Linked DNA regions of Homo sapiens: region 2 is reported to be linked to region 1. The links are microRNA targets in miRTarBase. Many come from high-throughput screens and were not tested one by one. Region 1 holds a microRNA gene; the other region holds the end of a gene's coding sequence.
What was found. The annotated mature microRNA hsa-miR-561-3p reads CAAAGUUUAAGAUCCUUGAAGU and lies in region 1 at 1,994-2,015, shown strand. An mRNA with a match to its seed (bases 2 to 7 or 8) in the 3' UTR can be bound and repressed. Matches are read on the target gene's strand: a 7mer-m8 pairs with bases 2 to 8, a 7mer-A1 pairs with bases 2 to 7 and ends in A, and an 8mer does both.

Region 1 (4,504 bases):
ATTTTTATGGTTCATTGTACTGTGCTACAGTCATGGATGTTTAACTTAACTCTTTTTCGGGTGAACAGATCAACTTATTAGAGAAAACAGAATAAGTATAGATAAATTGTTTAAAGGATAAAGTCTTTTGCTAAAATACCTAGTCATAGCTTTTATTTTTAGACTTTATATTATAATTAATAGTGAATCTGTAAAAAGCACGTGTATATGGGATATAGTAGTTGGGTTGAAACTTACACTATGGGTATCCTTGAACAAGTGGCTGTTTGAGGATATATTAGGGTAATTTTAATATAAAATGTCAAATTTTACCTTTCATTTTAAATTAGAAATCCTTAAAATTCTTATTTCCATTGATGAATGGTAGGTGATTTTAATTTAAATTTTACTTAGCAGAGTGATGTATTTGTGATTCAATTCGCGATATTGCAATTTGTTTTCTAAAACCTCTAAAGAATAAAAAAAGTTATTTTATTTCAGTATAATAATGAATTCAAAGATAGTTACAGAAGCTAACTGCATAACTGCCATGAGCCCTGGTCCCTAAACGTATTAGAGGCTGGTGGATCTAATATTGTTTGCCTTAATGCATTTAGAGATCAGGAAACTTAAGCTTTTTCCCATAAGAGCATAAAATATACTCAGATTGGAAGAGGAAAAAATGGTATAACTTTGAATGGAGAAATCGCTTCACTTTCAAATACTGGGGATATGAAATTGAAATCAGGCCTTTATTTTTAAAGAGAATGGCTAAAAGTCATTGTTCCAGAGTAAGACTTAGAAAACAATGCTTATACTGTTTTCAGGCCCTTGTTATTTGCGAGTTTTTTGTTTGTTTTATGCCTAAGAAATGTTTTCAGCCACTCTAATGATGCTTACCATGCATGATTGTCATCAGAGGACAGTTAATTGACTCAAATATTGTGTGGGATAGTAAGTGTCAATTTTCTGTTTACATTGAAATGGTATAGTTATGGCGAATTTGAAATTAGTTTTGTCTTTCAGTGTAGTATACTTAAAAATAGTTTTGAAAAGGCTGCCCTAATTTGCACACATAATATGAATAAGTAAGTTAACTTATATAGAAATTAAGATTTTCAGTATATTTTGTGCTAAATTGCAAAGATTAATATGGCTTTTTAAAGGAAGTTTTGAATAGCCTTGTATGTATTTTCTAGGATGCAACTAAGAGAGTGCATCTAGATATCAATACCTGCCTTTATTTCATGTTTGTTTTTTGCTATTAACATTATATAAATGTACCTATACATCAGCTGTATCATATACCTCCTGATGAAGAAGTTCAGAATAGACCTTAGAAACTTCCATATTTTGGGGGACTACTTTCTCTCTGTCTCTCTGTCTCTGTCGTTCTCTCTCTCTTTGTCTGTCTCTCTCTCTGTCTCCATTTCTTTCTCCCTTTCTGTGTGTGCATACTTATGATACATATATATTCTTTGATGTTTCTCTATTTGTGCTATAGTTTTTCTGTAGGGAAAAATAGCTTCAGTTAATTGATATTTTTGAGCCCAATTTTAACAACTAATTAAAAATGTTTCCCAGATAAGTATTGCTAGAAATCCTAGAAATCCTTTTTTTTTTCTTTTTTCCAAATTCTAAAAGTGTTTTTAGACTTCTATTTATACCTCCGAAAGAAGAGAAAAATAGTTGGCAAGATCTTCTACCTACATTCTTTGTTGTAGGCTCTAATGATGGCATACTCATGGAAGCCCTTTCTACTCTTCTTAAGTAGAACACAAGCACATGTACAGTTAACTACTGTAAGAAGGTAAATTCACTACTTAGAAGTTAGATACTACTGATAAGTTTATCAGGTATTGTGAAGTGAGAATTTTATACAAATGTAGTGTTTTCCTGGTATGGTACAGCTTTTTCTTAATATTAGGTGTTACAGTTGATCCATTTCTTGAAACTTCATCCACCAGTCCTCCAGGAACATCAAGGATCTTAAACTTTGCCAGAGCTACAAAGGCAAAGTTTAAGATCCTTGAAGTTCCTGGGGGAACCATGGATGGCTATCCTTATTTCTATAAGAGAGGAGACTGAATACTGTGGGCTCAGTCTTCAGTCTACCCTCTTATAGAAATAAAGACAATCATTTCAGAGCATACATAATCTACTGACTGAATCATTAATGATTTGCCTGTTTATAGCTGTATAATATTTCATGAGGTGATAACTATTGTTCTCATTTGGTTTGTATTTAAATTAGATAATATCAATTTTAAATATAATTTTAGCCAAAAAAAATCAAACAGAACATTTGTAGTATGGTAGCAAACGTGCAAATTTGGGATAAAAAATTGAAATAAGAGAATAAATGTGATTTTAGCTTCTCAATTTTTTTCATAGCCATTTATAACCATCAAGAGATACCATGTTTTAAGTAAAATTTTAATAGCAAATAGGTTCATTTACCCAGATTTCAACCTAGGTGAATTAAAACATAGGGTTATAAGTACTAATGAGAGTTTTAAGAAACAGTATTTTGTAAAGTATCTTTGAAGGTCAAACTACATGTTATGCTCTGTAATTTATTTTATTTTTGTCTGCTTTGAGGAACTGTGTAGTAATAAAGGACTTTGGTTGATGATCAAACTCTCCTTTTACTTCCTTGATGATGTGTGTTATTATAGTCATAAAGATGTCCAATAACATAAACACTGAACTTTACTAGTAGTGCAAATAAATACAGAGAAAGTTTGGCTGATTAGAAAGAACAATTGCATAACTGAATTAATTTCAAAGCAATTTATCTCTATGCTGAATATGTTAATTAAATATAATTAGAGGGTGTTTATGGATTGTAGTATCTCAGAATATAGTTTGAGAGAATTTTTAAGGAGTCACATTTGAGTAAACAAATTTTATTTGAAATTACGTAAATGCAATATGAAATGGCAAAAGTCTATTGGTATTTTAGATTTATAAAATAGCATTGTTTTAGAGTAACAATGGCTATTGCTTTAAATTTTTATGAATTATTTTTTCTGTTTTAATGCATCACCATGACTGGATATGTAGGAGAAAAACCTTTAAGCTTCTTAGCAGTAAATCAGTAAGAGGTCTCATATTGCTAATGTCTTTAGTCATTTTAAAGGAAGAACTACTAAATTTGTAAAATCTGAGTTATCATAGGTTTAGCTGATTACATTAAGCAGACTAGGAAATTCATGATCAATTTGGAAAAATAAAATTTTCTAGAGTAGTACAGATGAGGTTTTAGAGAACAACATTTTAGACTTGATGTTGTTGGAAGTAAATGCTCGGTGCTGCCAAGTGAATATAGCACTCAGGCAAAAGTTTGCTCAGCAAGGCAATTTACTTCTATAAAAGGGTGCCTCTCACGGATGGAGCAATGGCAAGAGCACACCAGACAAGGGAGGAGAAGGGGATCTTACTATTAATGCAGCTAGTCCCTACTGCTTGTTTTTCCCCTATTGGGTAGGGTTGGACCGCACAGTCTAAGATAATTCCAACTGGCTATTTTAAAGACAGCAGGGGTATGAGCTGGAGTGGCGGGGTGAGAAGCTTTGGTGGGAAGGACGGTTACAGAGCAGGTGACCAAGGATGACTAAGGACAGAGCAGGTGACTAAGGAGGGAGCAGGTGACTAAGGATGACTAAGGACAGAGCAGGTGACTAAGGAGGGAGCAGGTGACTAAGGATGACTAAGGACAGAGCAGGTGATAGAGGCTAGGAGGGGGTTGTTTACTAAAGCTAGGGACAAGGAGATGTAAAGAACGAGGAAGTTAAACTTTCAAATGGAAAACAAAGAACAGGGAAGCTCAATATACTAACATATTGGTTCTTTGAAGAGGAATTTACTGTATCCTACAATGTAATGAATCTTTCTTTGGGACTTTCTTATTCAATGAGATTTTGTCTTTATTCAGTGATTTTCCATTCACTTAATATACATTTGAAGTCTTTCCCCCCTTCTCATTCTGGGAAATATAACTGTGTTTAAACTGTGCATCTGCAAATAAAGAGATTCTGATATGATACAGTTGAATTTAATAAATACTTATCAAATAACACTTGTTCTTTTTGTAGTTGTGTGATTAGTAGGTGACAGAGACCTCCTCTTATTAACTTAAATAGAAGTTGGTATTTCTATATAATTCTGAGGTACAGTGCAGAGGATGTTGAGGAAGGAGGAGTGGGGAAAGCGGGTATTCACCAGTGTGAAGGGAAGCAGTGTATGGAAAGAATGTGTGCAGGTGATTCTTAGACCAAGTCACAGAGGATGAGGATGAGTTGGGCAGGCATTGAAAAGGGACAGTGTCAGTCAGAGCAGGTGGGATAGGCAAGAAGGCATGAAGCCATGAATGTGGTTTAGGAGAACAACTTGTGGATTTTACAGTTATAGAGATGTTCCTCCTTTATGTTTCCATGTTCATGAACTAACCATTAGTAATTACATAAAGGAGTTTTAGCTGGATTAATAGTTTTAGCTGAATAATTTTAGCTGGATTATCTTG
Region 2 (4,504 bases), not on the chromosome of region 1:
CGTTAACTATGTATGTGCTCATATAAATATTCTTATTTTCTACTTATTATAGCCAATAGGATTAGTACAGGCTCCATTATATTTATACTGATATGTTGGATTTCACTAAACCAAGCAGGCCAATTCTAAAGATGACTAGACATAATTTAATGTGTTTAGCTTCTCAAATTATCACTTACACACAAATGGAAGGATTTATAATTCCAATAGCATGCTGTGTTTCCCTATTGAGCCACCTTTATTTCATGTAATACCCATTGAATATTTGAGCCTTATTTGACCCACTATCAAGACAACAGGTACCAGAAGAAAGGGTAGTCAGTTTTTTGGTTTTTATAAATTATGGATTGTTCTTTATATATCTTGAATTTTTCTTTTTTTCCTATTCCCAATCTCTTTCCAGGGCGTGATTGACTACATTTTCTATTCCAAGACTCATATGAACGTGCTTGGTGTCCTGGGGCCTTTAGATCCTCAATGGCTGGTTGAGAACAACATCACTGGGTGTCCACACCCTCACATCCCTTCAGACCACTTCTCACTGTTAACACAACTTGAACTCCACCCTCCACTCCTGCCTCTTGTCAATGGTGTTCACTTGCCTAATCGGAGGTAGTGGAGTACTGCCCCGCCAAGACGGGGATCTGTTGCTATGGACCTGTACAGTTGTAAATCAAAGTATGTAGGAGTGAAGTATGGCCATCCTTAAGCTGCTTCTTCAGGTTTCTTTCATTATGTGTTTGCTGTAAGACTTTGTACATTTTTGTGCATATTGGTATCATTTGGCAGTAGGGCTGGAACCAAAGTATTACTCTCTTTACAAAATTTTAATTTAACATGTTTTTAAATTGGACCTTCTTTATATTGTATTAACAGCCAGCATTCAAAATTGATAAATTACCAATTTGAGGCCCAATAACAGTGTATTTGTTTTTCCAAAACAAATACTTTCTTTTGAATGGTTTCAGTGAGCCAACCATTTTATAAAAGGCAATTTTTAAAAACTATAAATACAGTATTTTAAACTGAATGATGATATGCCTTCCAGGGAAAACCTTGAATTTTTCCTTTATAACTGACTTTTGGATTCCAAAGTCATTTGCACATTAACAGAGTACTTAAATTTACTTGTTCAGTCCATAAACTATGATATAGCCTCTATACATGGTAAGAAAATTTGAAAAATTAAAGATGGTTGCACAGTATACTTTTATAATCCAGCATGTAACACCACATGACAATTTGTTGGCCAAATGCTGGTTTGGAGTTTTTTTGAGGAATCACTTTGGTTTTTTTGTCCTTTATATATAACCTTATTGGAAGTATTAATTCTAAGCCTGTCTCTCAAGTTTATTTATAGAGAAAAAGTAAGTAATCTGTATTGCCACATACCTTGAAAATAGAATGTGGTATGTTTAGGATGCCCACGGAATGAATTTTTCCTTATTCCAATTCAACCTTCTGTCTGGTTGTGCCAGGAAAACAGATGTTATATGACCTATGTCATTTTTGCCATTATAGTCAAATGTTAAAAGAAGAAAAAAGTCTGCTGAATAAAAAGGCCTTGATCAAAGTTTCAGATGGGGAAAATCATACAGATATTTTATGTGTTTCCAACATAGATTATGTGGCTGTTGGTTTCTTGAGATGACAGTGCAAAGGATTTGGGAGAGAGAACAAATTTGGGGCAGTAGTTGAAAACGTTGGGTCATTTTCCTGACTCTAGCTGCCAAATGGCCATCATATGCTTTTAATCTTTGTTTCAGTTGTCTGTCAGGGTTGAATTAAGAAGCTACTGGTTTATTCCCAATTGTTGATGCCTTTAGGTATGTTGGAATCTTTTTTTTGCCTAGGAGGGGCCAGTTGAAAATCTGTGACTCAAGAGGCAGTGAACAGAATACTGTTTTCTGGGGAAAAATTGGTTGGCTACTTGATGTTAATTATGGCACAGTAACAGGAAAAGGTTGTGTCTGTGTTTTTAAGTTTTTCTTTATTCTGCTTTTTTGCTGCTATAAGAGTTTTCTGAAATTTATATTTTAAACTTTTCATGCACTTTACTGTTTCTAGTCTCAAAATGTGATATTTTTAATAAACAAGAAATTTTCCATTATGTGAATGAAATTTTAAAAGACAATAGCCTATATTTGTGTCTCACTAATATATAAAGTATAGGTCAAATTTAAATTATTTAATTAGTTTTAAATATACACAATTTGTCTCCTCTTTCAAACCTGACATCTTCGGCTGTTTTATTAGTCTTAAATGATGCATTTACTTTGGTCATTTTATGCTAATTTCTTCCATAGTAAATTAATCAGGCTATATAAGGTAATATTTCCCCAGAGGGTAATTTTAGTGGGACGAGGGTGGTGGGATGATGTCATATCATACATGGGATTGCATCAGAAGGGTTCTGTAAAGCCTGAACTCCCTTTTAAAAGTGCCTAGTGATAGAGGCGTTGTTTGTCATCTATTATAATTGGAATGTCATTGTAGTTCAGTGAATTTTGATGTAAATAAAATATCTTTTAAAAATGTTAAAGTACCAGGATAAACAAACAAAAAGAAACAACCCTTAAGATGACAGATTTTCCTCAACATGCAGGTTTCCCTTCTTATATACCTCAAGTATCCAACATCTAGCCATGCAAATTGATTACCTGAAGCATAGTACTGGAAAGTAGAATAGCATGAAAAACTTAATTTTGTGGACATTACCTTTTTTTGTAATCAGCTACTGTATGTTTTATTTTAGATCTTTTGTTTTGGGTGGGTTTTCTGCTCTGGAGGTATATGCACTAACAAAACATTTTCCTCCTTTCATATACGCATGTTAATTAGCAATGTGAGCAATATTTCCTACCATACTTCACTCCCAATATTTTTTGAGATGTTTGTATAAAATGGAATTTAAAGTTCACTTATGATTGTATATGAACCACAGAGGAGCCCATTTATTAATAAAAAACTTTTTTAATAGTTAAATGTAGAGGGAAAAAATAAAAAAAAATGGGAAACATTGTAAACAGCTTAAGTTTATTTTGTGTATGATCGAGGCACTCTGTTGCAGGAAGGTGTGTAATTGGGTTCTCTCTGCTTCAAATGCGCTCTTTCAAACCATTCATTATCCTGTGTATTTTTAATGTGGTTTTAGTAAATGTTGGTAGTAGCTCTGTTGAAGTAGGTAATTGTGTTATGTTTTGGGTGGTACACACTTGGGGCATGGTAACCCAAATTTCATGTGCACGGTTTCCCTTTAGCCCACTGCCCAAATTTCACATACCCTTCACCCTTTGTTCCCTTTGTAAAAGGAGTGGTATCTGTTTTGAGCTGCCAATTCAGATGATCAGAAATGCTGCTTTCCTCAGCATTGTCTTGTTAAACCGCATGCCATTTGGAACTTTGGCAGTGAGAAGCCAAAAGGAAGAGGTGAATGACATATATATATATATATTCAATGAAAGTAAAATATATATGCTCATATACTTTCTAGTTATCAGAATGAGTTAAGCTTTATGCCATTGGGCTGCTGCATATTTTAATCAGAAGATAAAAGAAAATCTGGGCATTTTTAGAATGTGATACATGTTTTTTTAAAACTGTTAAATATTATTTCGATATTTGTCTAAGAACCGGAATGTTCTTAAAATTTACTAAAACAGTATTGTTTGAGGAAGAGAAAACTGTACTGTTTGCCATTATTACAGTCATACAAGTGCATGTCAAGTCACCCACTCTCTCAGGCATCAGTATCCACCTCATAGCTTTACACATTTTGATGGGGAATATTGCAGCATCCTCAGGCCTGACATCTGGGAAAGGCTCAGATCCACCTACTGCTCCTTGCTCGTTGATTTTGTTTTAAAATATTGTGCCTGGTGTCAACTTTTAAGCAACAGCACTGCCTAAAAGCAAGCAGAGAACAGAATCCCAGCACCATTCTATAGGCAACTTTTTAGAATTCAGATATAGTAAATCTGTTCCAGATTTATGATGTTTTATGTAAAAAAAATTTTGTATAATAACATAGCTGAATATTTTTGTTTCATTTCTTTGATGTAAGGCGTGTGAACATTCGTTTGAATATCACATGTTGAAGTCAGGTATGGCACAATGGGTTCTGAGACCAGCTTTTCCTCCCCTCCCATTTGCCTTGTTCCAAGCTCTTTCTTTTCAAATTACTTTTCTGATATTCATAGGCAGGTATTTAATTTTACTAATTAGCATCCTGTGTGAATGTATTAAAGAAGCCACTGTGTTTTAGTGTAGTTGGCAAAAATATAAAAGCTGTTTCTTATTTGCCCCTATTTTTTTGGTGTCTTAAAGTTATATATTAAATCACAGAGAAGCAAGGGAGAAAGTTGAAAGATATCTAAGGCTCATATCACTTGATTCTATGGTAGATTATATTAGAATTGAGGATGTGGCACATTAAAACTGGAACATGGGCAAATATAGTGTTCCATTTTAAAATTCTAAGTTTATATTGTTAAATGGGTGAAAA

Region 2: miRTarBase lists CNOT6L as a target of hsa-miR-561-3p. Seed matches in the 3' UTR shown: 7mer-m8 at 2,039-2,045 and 7mer-m8 at 2,966-2,972.

Annotation. Positions count from the first base shown.
Region 1 is chr2:188,295,559-188,300,062 of GRCh38, forward strand. It overlaps MIR561 (microRNA 561), which reads left to right and starts at 1,934; the gene lies at 1,934-2,030. All of the region lies in intron 1 of GULP1 (GULP PTB domain containing engulfment adaptor 1), which reads left to right. RefSeq lists enhancers at 3,054-4,253, 3,384-3,678.
Region 2 is chr4:77,716,543-77,721,046 of GRCh38, reverse strand. CNOT6L (CCR4-NOT transcription complex subunit 6 like) reads left to right here. Exons shown (of 12, transcript NM_144571.3): 12 at 404-4,504. The coding sequence ends at 616. Among named protein-coding and RNA genes, the nearest start is that of CNOT6L, 100 kb to the left of the region's middle.